Linked DNA regions of Homo sapiens: region 1 is linked to region 2. Evidence: fine-mapped expression QTL. A gene starts in region 2. The other region holds a variant in brackets. All regions are shown on one strand. Distances are between the middles of the regions.

Region 1 (4,390 bases), 130 kb before region 2:
CTACGGAGTATGCTGTTGTTTAATTATATGAGTCCCTGTGACAAACATGGGAGACCCACAAGGTTTTGGGGAATATTGTATCAGCAGAAACACTGCCAGACTGGCCTGAAAGGGACATACATGGGACATAATGAAGGCAGACTGTCAGACTTCTGGGATTTTATAGGCAGAAAATGGGCTGATAGAACTAGTTGGCTACAAACATGTATTATCATTCAAAAAAAAGAGAAGAATGACTCTGAGTGCAGAGCCTTGGGTACAGAGGGCAAAGCTCCAGACCCAGAGATCATAGCTTCAAGCAACAGAAAATAATTGTCAGGTCTTGAAACCTAAGGAAATTTTCCTTGCTGGATTTTGAACTGGCTTGGCATCAGTGACCACTTTGTATCTTCCATTGTCTCCCTTAAAATGGCAGTGTTTATAACTATTAACTACACTTGCCCATCATTGTATTTTGGAGGCAGATAACTTTTTTTTTCGAGGTTCTCATGTCCACAGATGGAGAGGGATTTTGGTGTCCTATCTATTGGCCCTGTCAAGTTAATATATAAAACTAACAATCACACATGTATCCTTCAAAGCGAAAGGAAAAGGGAGTCAGAGATAGACACAAAACGGAGGACATACACAGAGAAGGCAATATGAAGAGAGCAGCAAAGATTGGAATGATGCAACTACAAGCCAAGGAATGCTGAGGGTTGATGGTGCCTACCAGAAGTTAAAAGATAGGCATGCAGCAGATTCTCCCTTACAGTTTTGGAGGAAGTGTGACCTTGCCAACACTTTGAGTTTGGACTTCTGGCCTTCATAATTATGAGAAAATACATTTCTGTTGTTTTACGCCTCCAGGTTTGTAGTAATTTGTTACAGCAACCTAGAAAACAAATACAGTTCTCTTAGCTCTTGGTAATCCCCAGAAAGTAGAATAGGCATTAGCCCAGAGTAAGCATAAAATGTTACTGATAATGTTATGTCCTGATTTATAGTTCATTTCTGAGGATATTGTGTGTGCTCAGTAAATGTTTTTTGACTTGAATAAAAGTCCCAAAATGTGCAAATAGGTGTCACGGACATCTCTAAAATAGCCTCAAAGAACATTTCTAAAATGTCCCCCTCCTCCTCCCTGTCTTCTAAACACTCATTTCAAGTAAACACTGCTTCGAAAGCAAGTTTAAAATGCAGCTTGATTGATGGCTCATCAGCAGCAAACAATCACATTCAAAGCCGCATATTTACATGGTCAATACACAAATTAAACATGAGATTTCCCTGAAGTCACTCTATAAACTTGTTAGATCAAAAGTCACTTATGCACTTCATTTCGGGGAAGGAGGTCACCCAGCCTGCAGAACACAGATTATTCATGGCATGAAGAAATTCTTTGTTTCGCAGGGTTAGGCTTGGATCAGAATTGCGGTAAACCTCTTGGCTAGTAGCAGAATATTGACTAAAGCTCTGTCTTCCACCAGTGCAGAGGAGAAAGCCCTGTCAAAACCCACAAGAAATCTTTTTCTTGTTTCTAATCATCTCAAACACTGCTGAATACTTTATCTCTCACAGGAGCAGACTTCTTTGTTCTCACAGTTACGAAATGAAGGGGAGGGTGAGGGCAATCTGTTCTCAGCCAGAAGCAAATGAGGTTTTGCAAGATAACCAGGGGCATAGAGACTTCTCCCATACCTGGTAAAACA[T/C]TGTGTCTAGGGATGCCCCACCCCAGGCATGTTGCCTTCCTCTGGACCTGTGCCAAGATCCCGAACAAACCTAAATGGGAAACTCAAAACCAAGCAGAGAAAATAACTGAAATCCAGGAGGAGTTGGTTTATGAAGCCCAATTAGATAGCCTGAATATTGCATTCAAAAGGTGACTAAGTCAAGACTTGAAAAACATCAGCATAAGTCAGAAGGATGTGAGTGGTAAAACTGGCAAGGAGTAGACAAAATGCAATGGGAATAGTCAATGCATAGAGAACATATTTTTTAAAAAGAGATTAAATGGCAGTGTAAAGAAAATCTTACTCTTGGTAAAACCTCAGTATCTCTCTTTTTTAGGATTGTATTTTTGGGTTGCTAGCTTCAGGTTAAAATATATAGAAAATACTGTAGTATTATGAAGGCCATACTACCAAATTTTTAGGAAATATTCTATGCTAGGTATTACATTAAATATTTTGTTAATCTCTAACATCCCTACAAGATGAAGTCAGATAAAGATAGAAATTAAGACTGAAAGATTAAAGGACTTGTTTCACATCATACAGTTCATAATTGCTGGAGCAAAGATAAGAATTCAGGTCTACATCTTTCCATTAGATCATGCTACTCTTTAGTCAAACTCTCTAAACTACTCTTCACCAACAATTAACGTTTTCTCTGTAATATCATCAGTAGGCGAATGAGACTTGTTACCAGCACTCTATTCAAATGTATGTGGGGTGAAATAATAAAGCACTTGAATTAAGGGAGATTTTATTCAATGTTTTAGGAGAGATTCTCTCAGCATCTAGTATCCCTAGTTACCCCCTTCAGCTTCCTGAGGAGGATTATTTCTCCTTGTCTCTACAGGCCTAAAGAAAGGTAAATCAGATGTATTAAAAGTGCCTTTTCAACTTATGAGAATCTGCAGTATGCTTAGTTCTTTGCTGGGACACTGTTACAAAAGGAATAAATGAATTACTGAAGTCTCTGCTCTCAGGAATTTATCATGAAGAGGGACAGAGTGGAACTTCACAAAATTATTAGGAAGTGCAACACAAAAGTCAGTTTAGGTCAGAGCCTTCCCTCATTCTGATTCCACATTCTATTGCTTTGAACATGTTCATTTGTCCGATCTGGAGACTAACTGTTTCTTATACTCTGATGGTCCCCTTGGGTTTACACCGGTTTCCACTTTTTCTGCTCTAGTAGTAACGTCTCCTTGTTAGGCATTAGGGCTTTTGCAGAATCCTTTACAATATGACAGAATAACATGAGTCAATTATTTATAGTTAAGGTGCATTGAAAACATATATTTCAAAATGAACATGGTGCAGAACTTGCTGGATATAGGGAATGAAGAGAACTAAGAGGTTTGCAAAGAAGTTTTGGGTGAGGAATTGAGAAAGAAATGAGAGCTGTGAGAGGATGATAGGTTAGAAGAAAAAGGGAAAAGAAGATTTTACAAAGTGTTAATTTAAATTTTAAATGAACAGTTTTCCTTTTCTGAGAAATGCAAGTTAATGGATGTGCTGCAGTTTGCACTACTTCTGGCTCCTGGGCTGAGTGAATGTCACTAGGATTCTCCTCAGAAACTCTACTACATGGGTGCCAGCTTACATTCAGGTTACATGTATGTAGCACTGTCTATGTGGAAGCACCATTCTAGGCACTAAGTATACAATAGTGATCAAGGTTGGTGATATGGTTTAGCTGCTTCCCCACCCAAATCTCACATTGAATTGTAGCTCCCATAATGCCCACATGTCATGAGAGGGACCTGGTGGTAGCAATTGAATCATGGGGCAGGTTTTTCCCATGCTGTTCTCATGATACTGTATAAGTCTTATGAGATCTGATGGTTTTGTAAAGGGCAGTTGCCCTGCACACACTGTCTTGCCTGCCACCACGTAAGATGTACCTCTGCTCTTCCTTCACCTTCCACCATGATGGTGAGGCCTCCCCAGCCATGTGGAACTCTGAGTCCATTAAACCTCTTTTCTTTATAAATTACCAAGTTTTGGGTATTTATTCATAGTAGTATAAAAATAGACTAACACAGCTGGCATAGTCTCCAGCCCCAAAAGAATTCAAATTCCAGTGAAAAGGCAATGACAGAAATTATCACCATAGTAGGACTATAATTTGTGAGGACGTATGATGCTTTCTAAATATGGCACCGTTTATTCCTCAGACCAATCTTGTGAGATTAGTGTTATCAATTCTGTCTGATAGTGAAAGAATTCAACTCAGAGAGTCCAGGTTCTGTTCAGTGGAGATGCATATAATGAACAGCTGAGCTGGGATTCAAAACATAGATCTGTCTGAGTCCAAAAGCCTTCATCTTGGCAGTGGAATATAGTCAATGGCTAAGAGACAAGAAACAATGGAGAGCTTAGAACTAACCCTTTGGAGATGCTAACATTCCTGGGTTTGGAGAGGAAATGCTGGTCAGGGGCTAAATAAGGCACTCAGGATGTCAGAAAGATGTGGGACAAAATAATGCAAGGTGGTATAATATTTCTGAAAGCTGAAGAATTGACATTATCTAATAATAGGGAAAAACTCAGGATGTAGTCAAGAATCCTTTATTTTTGGAAATCCTAATATTGAAAGCATAGATTTCAGGTGGATGTTGAAGTCTCCAATGGCCACCAAAACTGCAGGGCTCTAAAAAGGTGTTAGGTTTTGAGAAAAA
Region 2 (4,390 bases):
AAAGCTGAAAAATGCCCCAGCTTTTAATAGCTTTTATCTTTTTCCAGATGACTGGCCTCTCTCTCACCTTCTGCTTCTATTCATGATAGGGCCCTTTTCTCCCCTATTTTTGTGGCTTGATATTAGTATTTTCATTCGAAACGGCCGTCCTCAATTATCAGAGAGAAAATTCACACCTTTCAAAGCTACGGCAATCACATTTCCATGTGACTCATAAGTATATCTTCTTTCTCTAGCACCTAGGTGCAACTGTGGGATGCCTGATAGATTAGGATTGTATGTTGAATGGGAAATGGGTCTGAACCAAGTGTCAGACAGTAGAATGGGAGCCAGGGGAGGGTTCCAAAGCAGCAGCAGAAGGTATCTCTAGCAAGCATCCGCTCTGGCTGGGGACTGTCTTCTGGTTCCAGCCTTACTGGAAGCTCAGGCTGTAGAGTTGTGAATTCCTGGGGCCAGGCAAGCCTAGATGTGTTGCCTGCTTTTGATAATGTATCAAAAATATGAACTCATCCTTGGAAGCGACAGCTATGAGGTGTTTCTTGGATGTAGAAATTTAGGTCATCTGTCTTCCTTTTGCATTGCCTTAAAAAGTACGATTTCCTTTCTTGGTTTATCATTTGCTGGCCTTCTTTCTTTCCATCCTTCCTCCCTTCCTTCCTTCCTTCCTCCCTTTTTTCCTTCCCTAGACTTTCCCTATCTCCCTCTTTTCTTTCGTAAAATTTGGTTGCCTGGGATAACGTGTATTGCATACAAGCTGACTTCCTTACTGTCCCTAGTAAGCTATGTGTGGCTATTATTTCTTCATTTATATGCAATGCCAGAAGCTTAGAAGAATGTTATCTCCCTTTCAGTTAAAAACTCATAGTTAAGAACTGGCCATCTTCTTGTTTTGGGTATTGTGGCTTGGTACTGTCTAATATATTTGGAGGGTATTTGATTTTTTAAAAAGCTACTGGCCATGCCTATTGAGTTTCCTACTGAGCCCAGCACCCAGACCAGTGATTGATTAAATAGTAGCTGCTCAATAAATATTTGTTTTGTAAATAATGATTCTATTGTCAAGAAACAAATCACCAAGAAAGAAGGAGCTATATATTTAAGAGTACTCTGTTCATCTGGCCAAAATGGAGTTCCGAGTCCCTTGCTCAGCTGATGTTTGTTCACCCAGAAGATGGTAAACTCCTGAGACCAACTTCGCTTTGTTGTTCTCTTGTGGTTCCTTGACCTTGGAAATGTTTTTCTACAGGCAGAGTATTTCCCCCTGTTGGAATTTTATTTAATATTCTATCTTTGTTTCTACTTTAGAAAACATGCCACGTGAATAATGATGCCTCAGGCAAAAGAAATCACTCCAGCAGTACAATTTAAACTTAGGACAAATCCTGCCCTCACTTGCATTCACAATTTGCCAAGGCAGTTGGTAAGAACTGTGCCCACACACAAATTGACAGAATCGAGGCCCCAAGGTTAGCGATGATTAAAATTTAAAAGTCCATTCATTCATTTTCAAAATATTTTATTCGATTGCTTCTGAGGCAGAATCATGAGTTGCCTTCGCTTTTGCTGCTCCCGGTGGTGGCATCCAACTCTGAGGATAGCTCATCCAACTCTGAGGGTAGCTCTGAGGGGAGCTAAATATCCTCATTGTTCAATGAGCTAGATGAAAACAAAACGAGGCTGTAAGGTCAATCTCACAGCCTTAGTGGAGTAAAAATTAGAAGTCAATAATTCTCTTACCAACAAAGAGGACTTGCATTCAACAGGATTTTCAAAAGTGGTATCCTGTAAAAATTTTGGAAAATACCACCATAATGGAAAAAAAATAAAGTGGCATATAAATCAAATGTAGTGCTAAAAATTATAATTTTTCCATATGAATTTTGGAATCCTAAAATATTTTTATGTGTTTGTGGATTCATAAGGCATCAGAACTGGCTTTTTGCACTGAATATGAGTACAGAAGGCTTTCCTCTCCAATAGTGAATTAATAAAGGATAAGTAGGAAAAACGTTACGAAACGATGTGGTAACATTATAGACTCTGTATTAGGGCAAAAATTGTGAGATAGTAGAAGATCTGTAAATTTAAGCATGCACAATTTGACAGCGGATGGTCGTAGCATATTTTGTAAATTCAATAGCAAGCCCCACCACGCCCTTAAATGAAGGAAAGCAAGAAGACAATTTTTAATACGTACATGGCACCACACCCCTCTAAGACGCAGCAATGGGAGAAAAGCAGATTGGCGACCTGTGTGTGCAACATGAACCGAGTGAAACCATCGGGGAGGGGGTGGGGGGCGTTTCTTTTAAATGTCGCTTTTGCAGATAAACGAGCAGGGATCCTACCTCTTTTGACCGGAGATGTTGAAAAGCACGACCAAAGTTTTTGGCTTGGTCTCTTGCTTTCCACAACGAGATAAAGTCTGAAGCCTGTAACTCTCCCTGTCCCGCGGGAGCGTGCAAAGGGAGGGAAGATAAGCGGCGTGGGTGAGGGGTGGCGGCGCAGAACCCAGGAAGGGAGCAGAGGCGAGAGCCAGCCTCCGGCAGGAGGGCGTAGACCCCGGTGCCAGCCAGAACGGCTCCAGCCTTCCCGCGGCCAGAGAGCCAGCGGCGGGAGGGGACGGGCGGGACCTCCGCGGACAGCCCCGGGTGCGGACCAGCGGGCAGCGGCCGGCGAGACCCTCCCTGGATCCGCCCAGAGCTTACCGGACCCTGCGCGCCCCCGTCCCGGCTCCCGGCCGGCTCGGGGGAGAAGGCGCCCGAGGGGAGGCGCCGGACAGATCGCGTTTCGGAGGCGGCGCAGGTGTGTCAGGGGTGGGGGTCCGCTGGCATCTCTCGTGCCGGCGCTGGGGGGGTCTCCCGTGGAGGAAGGGCTGAAGGTGCTCCGGGAGGGGTCCACTCGTTATGGAAAGGAAGCGGGGCGCGGTCAGGGTCCCTCGTCCGCAGTGGGGGTGGTCCGGGCCCCTCAGCCTGCACCCGGGAGGAGACGCCCCCTTTTCACGCCCCGCCCCCGGTGGCCGAGGCCGGATTCGGACAGCTCGGGGTCAGTCGACGGAGCACACCGGGCGCCCGAATCCGCCGGGTCCCACTCACGCCCGCCGGCCGCCGGTAGGTTGGCCCTCCCGCTTCCAGCCTCCGCCACCCCATCCCTCGCTGCTCTCTGAGGAGGATTCCAGACCCCCCCGTAGATCTCCGCCCTCTCTCGGGTGGGGCTCCGAGGTCTAGCTGGTCTGGGGGTCAGTCCCGGCCTCTGTCTCCCACCGCGCCCCTCGCTCCCCTGGACACCGCCTGGTGTGTGGGGCTCAGACCCCCCCAGTCCACTGCCCCTGTGTGGCTCCTCCTCTCAGGAGAGGATTCTAGATCCCAGCCCGGGGGGGGTTCCGAAAATGCCGCCAGCCTGGAGCGGGGAATCCATGGACCGTGGGGTTGTGGGGTTGGGGAGCACGAAAACCCAGAGAGGGGCTAGAGCTCCACCTCCCCAGACCGCCGAGGGGCGAGAGGGCGCGCCGGGGGCCGTGGTTGCCATGGCTCCTGGTAGCGGAGCCCGGGGGGCTGGAGATGCCGGTCGCGGATGGTCCCTTCTTCCTCTTTGTGCCTCTCTCTTTCTCTCGCTTTTTTTTTTTTTTTGGAGTGTGAGTGTGCGTGGGGAGGCAGCACGGAGAAAGTGATTAATTTGGGGAGCAGGGATTGGAGCCGGGAGGCTGGGGAAAGCCAGCCCCTCCGTTCCCACTCTCCGGGCTCGCTGCGAGCCACAGTGTCTCAGCCAGGGGCAGGGCCGGGGAACTCCTGCGAAAAACCACGGGCCGGAGGAGCAGCAGCCGCGCGGGCCCAGGTACCCCCGCCCCAGACGGCCAGCAGGGTGGAGCGCAGGGTGGGCGTTTGGGCTGCTGGGCGGGAAGGCGGGCGGGGAAGGGGTGGGAGGCCGGCGGCGGAGGGCAGGTGTGCGTCGGCAGGGCTGGGTGGCCCGGCAGAGAGGGCGCCCCAGGTTCAGCCCCTCCTCGAAGGGCGCCGGCGTCCAGTCCCGCTCGTGGGAGCCGCGGAGCAGCCCCAGGGCCGGCGAGCGGCTGCCCTGCCAGGCGCGTGCGCGAGGGCGCGCTCCCGCGGGAACGCGCCGTGCGCGGGGAGATTTGCGCGTGCGCGTGGCGATGGTAACTGGTGGGCCCCCCGGGCTCGCTCTAGGCGGAGGCTCCCGGGACGCCCACGTGGCTTCGAATTCCAGCTCCACCATCACTGTGATGCGTCACTCTGGACTAGGCATTTAACTACGTGCCTCAGTTTCCCTTTCTCAATAATACGGAGATTATCGATACCCTCTATACTGGGTTGTTGCAAGACTGGAATGAGATGATACAAGTAATTTAACACCATAGATTTTTAAATTTAACACC

Evidence for each region. PIP is the estimated chance that this variant, and not a neighbour inherited with it, causes the effect.
Region 1: its variant is the best candidate, but not a certain one, in a credible set for the expression of CHL1 in testis (GTEx, PIP 0.67).

The regions. Positions count from the first base shown.
Region 1 is chr3:61,991-66,380 of GRCh38, forward strand. The region is part of intron 1 of LOC105376921 (a long non-coding RNA gene); the gene reads left to right. Among named protein-coding and RNA genes, the nearest start is that of LINC01986, 52 kb to the left of the region's middle. The variant T/C (reference allele first, on the strand shown) is at 1,692.
Region 2 is chr3:194,259-198,648 of GRCh38, forward strand. It overlaps CHL1 (cell adhesion molecule L1 like), which reads left to right and starts at 2,505. Exons shown (of 28, transcript NM_006614.4): 1 at 2,505-2,805. CHL1-AS2 (CHL1 antisense RNA 2) reads right to left here and starts at 3,083. Exons shown (of 4, transcript NR_144487.1): 1 at 2,709-3,083; 2 at 2,198-2,250; 3 at 1,738-1,782; 4 at 1,500-1,656.